2 separate regions of the Homo sapiens genome follow, and region 1 is linked to region 2. Evidence: fine-mapped expression QTL. A gene starts in region 2. The other region holds a variant in brackets. All regions are shown on one strand. Distances are from middle to middle.

Evidence for each region. PIP is the estimated chance that this variant, and not a neighbour inherited with it, causes the effect. A credible set is the group of variants that fine-mapping cannot tell apart.
Region 1: its variant is the best candidate, but not a certain one, in a credible set for the expression of DRC12 in pancreas (GTEx, PIP 0.68).

Annotation. Positions count from the first base shown.
Region 1 is chr11:119,112,204-119,116,587 of GRCh38, forward strand. C2CD2L (C2CD2 like) reads left to right here. Exons shown (of 14, transcript NM_001290474.2): 8 at 125-189; 9 at 279-406; 10 at 497-671; 11 at 1,408-1,509; 12 at 1,652-1,785; 13 at 1,877-2,162; 14 at 3,842-4,384. The coding sequence ends at 4,053. Among named protein-coding and RNA genes, the nearest start is that of C2CD2L, 7.1 kb to the left of the region's middle. The variant A/C (reference allele first, on the strand shown) is at 2,412.
Region 2 is chr11:119,193,318-119,197,701 of GRCh38, forward strand. DRC12 (dynein regulatory complex subunit 12 homolog) reads right to left here and starts at 2,524. Exons shown (of 7, transcript NM_001145018.3): 1 at 2,482-2,524; 2 at 2,107-2,182; 3 at 1,606-1,677; 4 at 449-568. The coding sequence starts at 2,170.

The sequences.
Region 1 (4,384 bases), 81 kb before region 2:
GATTGGAGCATTTATGCCGTTTTATTTATGTACACAGCTCTCTGCCTCTGGCCTGTGATCCACTCAAGTGTGGGTTCAGCTTGCTAATTTTCTCCTTCCTGCCCCATCTCCTCTTGTCCCACAGGGATCTGGGCCCCCAGAGCCGGGAGCTGACCCTCAAAGTGCTGAGGAGCAGCAGCTGTGGAGACAGTAAGTGAGGGGTGGGAGGGGCACCCCTGGGTGGGTACAGAGTGGGGTCTGGCCATGGGCCCAGCTCACAGTGCCATCCCTTTCCCCAGCCGAACTCCTAGGCCAGGCCACACTGCCTGTGGGCTCCCCCTCCAGACCACTGTCTCGAAGACAGTTGTGCCCACTCACCCCAGGGCCAGGGAAAGCCCTGGGACCAGCAGCCACCATGGCAGTGGAGGTGAGAAGCTGACCCCTGGGGTAGGTGGGAGGACACAGGGGATGGGCAGTCTCCGAGGCTCTGTCTCTTCTCTCTCCCACCCCTGGGCAGCTTCACTATGAGGAGGGCTCTCCCCGGAACCTGGGTACTCCCACCTCCTCCACTCCACGCCCCAGCATCACACCTACCAAGAAGATTGAGCTTGACCGGACCATCATGCCCGATGGCACCATTGTCACCACAGTCACCACTGTCCAGTCCCGGCCCCGTATAGACGGCAAATTAGGTAAAGAGAAGGAGCCTGGGAGCCCAGCTCTAGCCAGGGGCCCGGGACTGCAGACCCAAGGCAGGACAGTGAAAGAGGAGAGAGCCTTAATTCCAACTCCCCCTGTTTTCAGACATTCCATTCCAGTCCTACCACATCTTCCTCCCAATCTTTGTCTCTTCCAAACTTTCCCTTACCTCCTGCCATTTCCCCAGCAATTCCTCTCACTCTGCCACCCTTCTGGATCCTCCTGCCCCTCCTCATACAGGACTGTTGCACTCCTACCTTCCAGCTTCCCCTCTGGCTTTTCACAGGTGTCCTTAGCCCCAGCTGACTATAATTGTCCATCCTGCTACCCTCAGCCCTCCAGCACCCCCTGGGGTCCTCCAACAAACCCAGAGGCCTCTGTGGCATTTCTACCCCACTCAGTGGGCCCCCATGGCACTTCTGCCATTATAGGGGCCCCACTGAATTGCCCCAACTTCAGGGAGCCCCAGTACCCCCTCTGTCCCCGCTCCATATTTTCATAGCATCTCCCCACACCTTCAGCAGGCCCCATGGCACTTTCCTACACTCCCATTAGCTCCTGGGGTGTCTTTTAGTCCCCACGGCATCTTCCTAATCACCCTTGTGATTAATCACCCTTTAATCATTCTTGCCCTCTGAGTCACCCAAAGTCTGCATCTCAACAAAGACAGTAGGGGTGGGGGCCACTCTGAAGCAACTCCCAGCTCACTGACCCTCCCCCACCCACCAGACTCCCCCTCCCGCTCCCCGTCCAAGGTGGAGGTGACCGAGAAGACGACAACTGTGCTGAGTGAGAGCAGTGGCCCCAGCAATACCTCCCATAGCAGCAGCCGTGAGTGGGGAATGGGGTGCATGAGTGTGGGTTGGCCCTGGTGCCCCAGCATCAAAAAGTACTCTGGGTGGGATAGGAGGAGTTCCAATCCAAGAAAGAGCCAGGGAGAAGTCAGGTTATTCATTCTCTGCACCCCTAGCAGGGGACAGCCACCTTTCCAACGGCTTGGACCCTGTAGCAGAGACAGCGATTCGCCAGCTGACAGAGCCCAGTGGGCGGGTGGCCAAGAAGACACCCACCAAGCGCAGCACTCTCATCATCTCTGGTGTTTCCAAGGTAACAGGGCTCTGGGGAGAGGAGCTGGGATGGGGAGAAAGCCCTAATGGGTCGGTCACTCCTGCCCATTAAAACCCGTCCCTCCTGCCAGGTGCCCATTGCTCAGGACGAGTTGGCGCTATCCCTGGGCTATGCGGCATCCCTGGAAGCCTCAGTGCAGGATGATGCAGGGACCAGCGGAGGCCCCTCTTCACCTCCCTCAGACCCACCAGCCATGTCTCCAGGACCGCTAGATGCCCTCTCTAGTCCCACAAGTGTCCAGGAAGCAGACGAGACAACCCGTTCGGATATTTCTGAGAGGCCATCTGTGGATGATATTGAGTCGGAAACGGGGTCCACTGGTGCCCTGGAGACCCGCAGCCTCAAGGATCACAAAGGTAGGGGGACGTTGGCAGGGTGCCCCTCATCTCTTCTTTTATACACATATCATGACCTGGGGGACCTCGAGCCAGTGTGCCTTCTCCTTCCTCCCCTAAGAGATAGCCGGATTCCCAGCCTAGTTCAGCCAAGCTAGCCTAGAGGGGGATCTTGGTGCCTTGGTTCCTGGCCTAGATCTGACATGCTTGTGATAGGAAGGGATGCCAAATTATTTCCCTTTACCTCCATTGTTCTTTCTTCCTGAGTCT[A/C]AGTGCCATTTTTCCTGCCCTTTAAAAAAAAATTATAAAAATTTATTCCTAGGCAGGGTGTGGTGGCTCACACCGGCACTTTGGGAGGCCAAGGCGGGTGGCTTACCTGAGTCCAGGAGTTCAAGACTAGCCTGGGCAACATGGCGAGACCCCATCTCTACTAAAAATACAATAAATTGGCTGGGCGTAGTGGCACACACCTGTAATCTCAGCTACTCAGGGGGCTGAGGAGGGAGGATTCCTTGAGCCTGGGAGGTTGAGGTTCAAGGAGGTTGAAGCAGTGAGCCGTGATTGTGCCACTGCACTCCAGCCTGGGTGACAGAGTGAGACCCTGTCTCAAAAAAAATTTTTTTTTTCCATGGCTGGGCACGGTGGTTAATGCCTGTAATCCTAGCACTTTGGGAGGCCAAAGCGGGTGGATCACAAGGTCAGGAGTTCAAGACCAGCCTGGCCAACATGGGTAAACCCCATCTCTACTAAAAATACAAACATTAGCCAGACGTGGTGGCAGGCGCCTATAATCCCAGCTACTTGGGAGGCTGAGGCAGGAGAATCGCTTGAACTGGGGGGTTGGAGGTTGCAGTGAGCCCAGATCATGACACTGCACTCCAGCCTGGGTGACAGAGTGAGACTCTGTCTCAAAAAAAAAAAAAAAAAAAAAAAATTCTTCCCTTTCAATCTGCACCCTCTCCCCAATGAGTATAAGAAATCCTACCCTTGGATTATCCATCTGGCAGCAAGACAGGCAGTGACCAGTGGTGGTAGTTCTTCTAACTTTAAAAGATGAGAGGCTCACCCTAAAACATCTTCATTCCTCTACCAGTGAGACTATCAACCATGGATCTATCTATCTATTTTTTAAGCCTGCATCACTTCTTGAGATAATGAGGTTTCTACCTCCAAAGCCTGCTGGGTGAGCACCTTGCTCATTATACTGGTTCTGAATTTACCTCTTTGAAGTTTCTAGATGCACCACTTCCTGCTCACAGCCTGGAATTCGGTTAACAAGTCAGTGTCAACCTACCTTTCCCTTCATGATTTATAGACTTTTGGGAGTACCTTCTGGTAGCTTTTGTCTTCCCATAGGAAAGAGGCCCAATCCCAGTTTGTCCTCACAAAGCGGCCAGCTCCGTGATATCTCTTTTGCGGGCAGAGTTAAGATTGTACACAGATCCCCACAAGTACCACGATTTTTGCCTCAGGAAGGATAAAGCACATGTTTGTTTCTGCTTTCGTTTTCTTTTTTCTTTTTTTCACGAAGCCTTATGGAGAAGTATGTTTCTGCTTTCTTTCCTGAGGAAGCCTGGCTTCTGGGCCACGGGACTGATCCTGTCCACATCCTCTTTCCCTCCATTCTCCATCGTGTCTCTGCCCCCGTCTCACCCCACCCCGTGCCCCTCTCTGCCTCAGCTTCCCCTCTTCCCCTGCAGTGAGTTTCCTGCGCAGCGGCACTAAGCTCATCTTCCGCCGGAGGCCTAGGCAGAAGGAAGCTGGCCTGAGCCAATCACACGATGACCTCTCCAACGCAACGGCCACGCCCAGTGTCCGAAAGAAGGCCGGCAGCTTTTCTCGCCGCCTTATCAAGCGCTTTTCCTTCAAATCCAAACCCAAGGCCAATGGTAACCCCAGCCCCCAGCTCTGAGGACCCAGCTCTGAAAGGGCACGAGTTCTCTCAGCCCATTCCCCACCTCCCCTTCCATACCCCTTCCTGGATCTCCAGTGCCTGGGCCAGGAAAGCCCTCTGGGTTCCGGGAAGCCCCGTCCACCCTGGGCCATGGGGCCGGTTGGAAGGATACTTGGAACGGGAAGCACATGAGAGGTGGGCACCCGGTGCCGAGGACATGGACGAGGGACTGGTGGCTGGGAGGGAGAGGAGGGCCCTGTCCGGCATGTGTGGGTATTCCCCAGAAGCATTTGCCTCCTGCTGAGCCTGGTCCCTGAGCGGAGTCCCAGGGTGCTCAGCTCTTCAGCTG
Region 2 (4,384 bases):
GTGGGGAAGACTCTACTTGGTCTAGTGGAACAGGAGCACAAAGGCCTTCTTGGTTCTTTTTGTGATTCTGAGAAGCTGCAGACCATGAAAACCTGAGGAAGGGACAGGAAGCCCGACCTACCTCCCCCAGTCCAGCTTTGGATGGGGATGCTAGCCCTTCTCCCCGCCCATGGGCTGATTGAGATGATGGCTATGACTGCATGTGTATCCTACACAGCATCAAGCACATGGCACCAGGCATCCTGGAAGGCCCCTGCCTGGGATCCCAGGAACCTACCTGCCTTTGGTTCCTGCAGGATCCTTCCTGATTTGTACTGTTTGGGAAAGACCAAGACCAGGCCTGGCAGTCGGAAGCCCTCCTTGTTTCCCTTCCTTGCATCAACTGACCCTGTTGGTTGTCCTCCTCCAAGCCCCTGTCTCCTGCCCACCTGCTTAACCGACCACACACCTGCATATATGGCCTTCCCTTCACTTCGGGCCCCTTCCAGCTCAGCCTCCACCCCTTGCAGCCTCTGCCTCAGCTGGTCTTCGGAAGCCTTGGCTCGACGGGCTTCATCCCTCCGTAGAGCTGTGAGCAGTCCCAGAGCCGCCGTCAGGACTGGCTGGGTCCCACTAAATCAGCCCCCATGAACGTGATGGACTTTGCCCACCTCTAGAAATCTGGTGGTGGGGTGTCCAGCCTCTTACTCTCTCTCTGGGTTTTGTTGTTTTTGTTTTTTATCCCTAGAGTCTCACAGGCTCCTCATTATTAAGAAGTAAAAACTCCCTCTATGTTCTTTTCGGATAGCCTGGCATGGTGGCTCATGCCTGTAATCCCAATATTTTGGGAGGCTTAGGTGGGAGAATTGCTTGAGGCCAGGAGTTTGAGACCTGCCTGGGCAACAGAGTGAGACCTTGTCTCTATAAAATAAATAGGGCCAGGCGCGGTGGCTCACGCCTGTAATCCCAGCACTTCGGGAGGCCAAGGCTGGTGGGACACAAGGTCAAGAGTTCGAGACCAGCCTGGCCAACATGGTGAAAACCCGTCTCTACTAAGAATACAAAAATTAGCCAGGTGTGGTGGCCACGTGCCTGTAATCCCAGCTACTCGGGAGGCTGAGGCAGGAGAATCGCTTGAACCTGGGAGGCAGAGGTTGCAGTGAGCCGAGATCACACCACTGCACTCCAGCCTGGGCGACAGAGCACAAGACTCTGTCTCAAAAAAAAAAAAAAAAAAAAAAAAAAAAAATAAATAAATAAAGTAGCCAGGCATGGTGGTGTGCACCTGTAATACCAGCTACTCGGGAGGCTGAGGCGGGAAGATTGTTGCGGCCCAGGAGTTAGAGATTACAGTGGACTATGACCATACCACTGCACTCCAGCCCGGGCAATAGAGCAAAATTCTGTCAAAAAAACCAAAAAAAACAAAAAACAAACAAACAAAAAAAACACCTTCCTTTATCAACTCTCACTGCCCACCCTCTCTCATCATCTTTTTCCACTAGGGGATGGTTAGGGTCAACTTAACCCCCCACCATACCTCCAACTCTCCAATCCCCCAGGATACAGAAATGCCCCATTTCACTTCCCCTGTTGCCCACCCATGCCAGCTTCTACCCTCCTTACCCAAGTGGTCTCGGAGCAGCTCCTTCTCCAGCACCACCAGCCTGTGCCTGGACTCGGCCACCACATCTGCACCTGCGGTGGCAAGTGGCAGAGCCTCAGCTCTTCATGATCTCAGCATTCCTCACTCTGCTCACATCCTCACCCCACACCCTGCACTTTTGCCACAGCAGACCTGAGGACCACTAAATGAGGTATCCACAGTGGCAGAGTCTACTGAAGTCAGCACCGTGTCCTCACCGACCAGCACATAACAGATATGCAAAATACACATGACAAATATATTAGGAAGGCACAGAGCTAGATGGGGCTTAAAGGAGAGCGTGGGTGACCATTTCCCCACTTCCTCAGCTCCCTGGATCTGGCTGTGAGGACATGAAAGAGGTAGGTCAAGAGAGCTCCATCCTGTCCTGCAGAAGGCTGAATTCTCTCTGGAGGAGCTCTGCGTGGTCTTCATGGCAGAACATGGAGAAGCAGGGGGCACCTCCACCCACCATGACTCACCCCAGTTCTTTTTCTTCTTCTGTGCCCCAGATTTCTTCCCTTTTTCTTTGTTTTTAGGTGGCATCTCCTTGCTGTCCTGGGAGAAGGAGGGGACCTTATGTTTAGGTCTGGACACAGGGATGCTTTCCTGAGCTTTAGACTGAACCAGGAGACTCTCCTGAGTCCAAATTTGTCTCTCATATCCTTCAGAAAAGTCAGTTCACAGTCTCTTTGGAACCTCAGACAGGGTTGGGGTCAGTGGGGAGGATGGAGTTTTTTCTCTCAACCAGGCTGACTCTGTACAGAAGTCATTCCTTGCAACTCTCTTTTAGAGAAACGAAATCCCTGTACCTGCTCCCCTCCCTCTTCCCATCATCCTCAACCCTCACTTCCTACCTGTAGGATCCTCTCCTGCCAGCGTTGGGGCTCCCCGTGGAGTGACCCACTCGTGGGGAGTGGCAGAGAGAAGGCCCAACTAGCGAGGAGCCTGAGGCGGGGCCTGGGTCCTGGGAGCCAATCCTTGGTGGCAAATTTCTCTTGAGGGCAGGACTGAGGGCTGGAAGGTTGGGTTTCCAGAGGCTGTATGTTGTCCAGGCAACTGGGAAACATGGAGTTCACAGGAAGGTGGAATGGGCTAAATCAGCTCACAAAGTTTAAAATATCAAGGTCTCAAAGGGTCAGTTCTTTCCTTATCCCAAAATCCTAAGTATAGTTTGAAAAGAAAGGGCTTTGGAGGTCGATTAGTTATGATTCATTGCCATGTAGACATGGCCTGCAATTTGGAGACTTCCAAATTCAGATGTACACATCTGAGATAATATGTGGTGCTGATACAGAGGAAAAGGACTGACAGTAGCCATGTTGGACAACTGACATCCCGAGGTCCCACCAGCAAAATGACATTAGTAGGCTTAAAACTGAAGATCTAAGCTGGGGCGGTGGCTCGTGCCTATAATCCCAGCATTTTGAGAAGCTGAGGCAGGAGGATTACTTGAGGCCAGGAGTTCGAGACCAGCCTGGACAACACAGTGAGACCTCATTTCTACAAAAAAATTAAAAAATTAGCCTGGTGTGGTGGTGCACACCTGTAGTCTCAGCTACTTGGGAGGCTGAAGCAGGAGAATCACTTGAGCCTGGGAGGTTGAGGCAGCAGTGAGCTATGATTGCACCACTGCACTCCAGCCTGGATGACAGAGGGAGACCCTGTCTCAAACAAACAAAACTCCCAGACCACCGAAGATCCTCTTCAGTACACTGTAGAATGAGGGTAATAAGTGCAGGAATAGGTAGTCCAGGGAGTTTCCCACTTCAGAGAAATGAGACGCAGAGGAATAGTGGACCCATGGACTCTAGGGTACTGACCTAGAGGGATGCAAGTGTGGAGGAAAGAGCTCAGGTTAGAGACAAGACATGTGAGTTTGAGTCCCAACTGTGGATATGTAAACTGAGGCGAGCCATTTGACTTTGCTCAGCATCAGTTTCCTGATCTTTAATTGTTTGATTTTGCAGCTCTTGAAAAGCCTGTGTTTTAGCTGCGTGTTTACATGGCTATCTTCTCTCCTAGTGACTTAATCTATTGCTACATTTCCCCATTCCCTTGTGTGGTTGATTTTCAGACAGGTGTTGAGACATTGCTTTGTGAGGCTCCCTGTAGCATAGAGTTGGTTGGGGCTCCCTCTAGTGGACTTGTTTGACCTTCTCCTGAGTTTCCTACATTTTTGCTTTTAAATTATTTACTGGGCAACAGTGGGGGTGACTCCCTTTGGGGATACTTCTTAGCGTCCTGTTTGAGCCAGGAGTGGCTGGAAGAATTAACATTGGGGAGAGAGTATGATGGGTGGCCCTCCCTTGTCAGGCAGCCCTCACTTTCCCTCCAGCTCTGTGCTATCCTGGAGGCTTGCCATTTATCTGCCACTTGGATCTCTGGGCACCATACTGGTTAGAGTGAAAATAGCAAAAACTTCAGGACTTTTCTCCTTTTGGATTAGGGGACCTGCAGACCCTTTCTTTTCTTTAGGTTTCTTTTTTTTTTTCCCGTGTCTCTCTCTGTCACCTAGGCTGGAGTGCGGTGGCATGATCACGGCTCACTACAGCCTCAGTCTCCCTGGGCTCTGGTGATCTTCCCACCTCAACTTCCTGAGTAGCTGGGACTACAGGCGCATGCCACCACACCTGGCCAATTTTTGTATTTTTTGTAGAGATGGGGTTTTACCATGTTGTCCAGCATGGTCTCAAACTCCTGGCCTCAAGCGATCCACCTGCCTTGGCCTCCCAAGGTTCTTGGATTACAGGCGTGAGC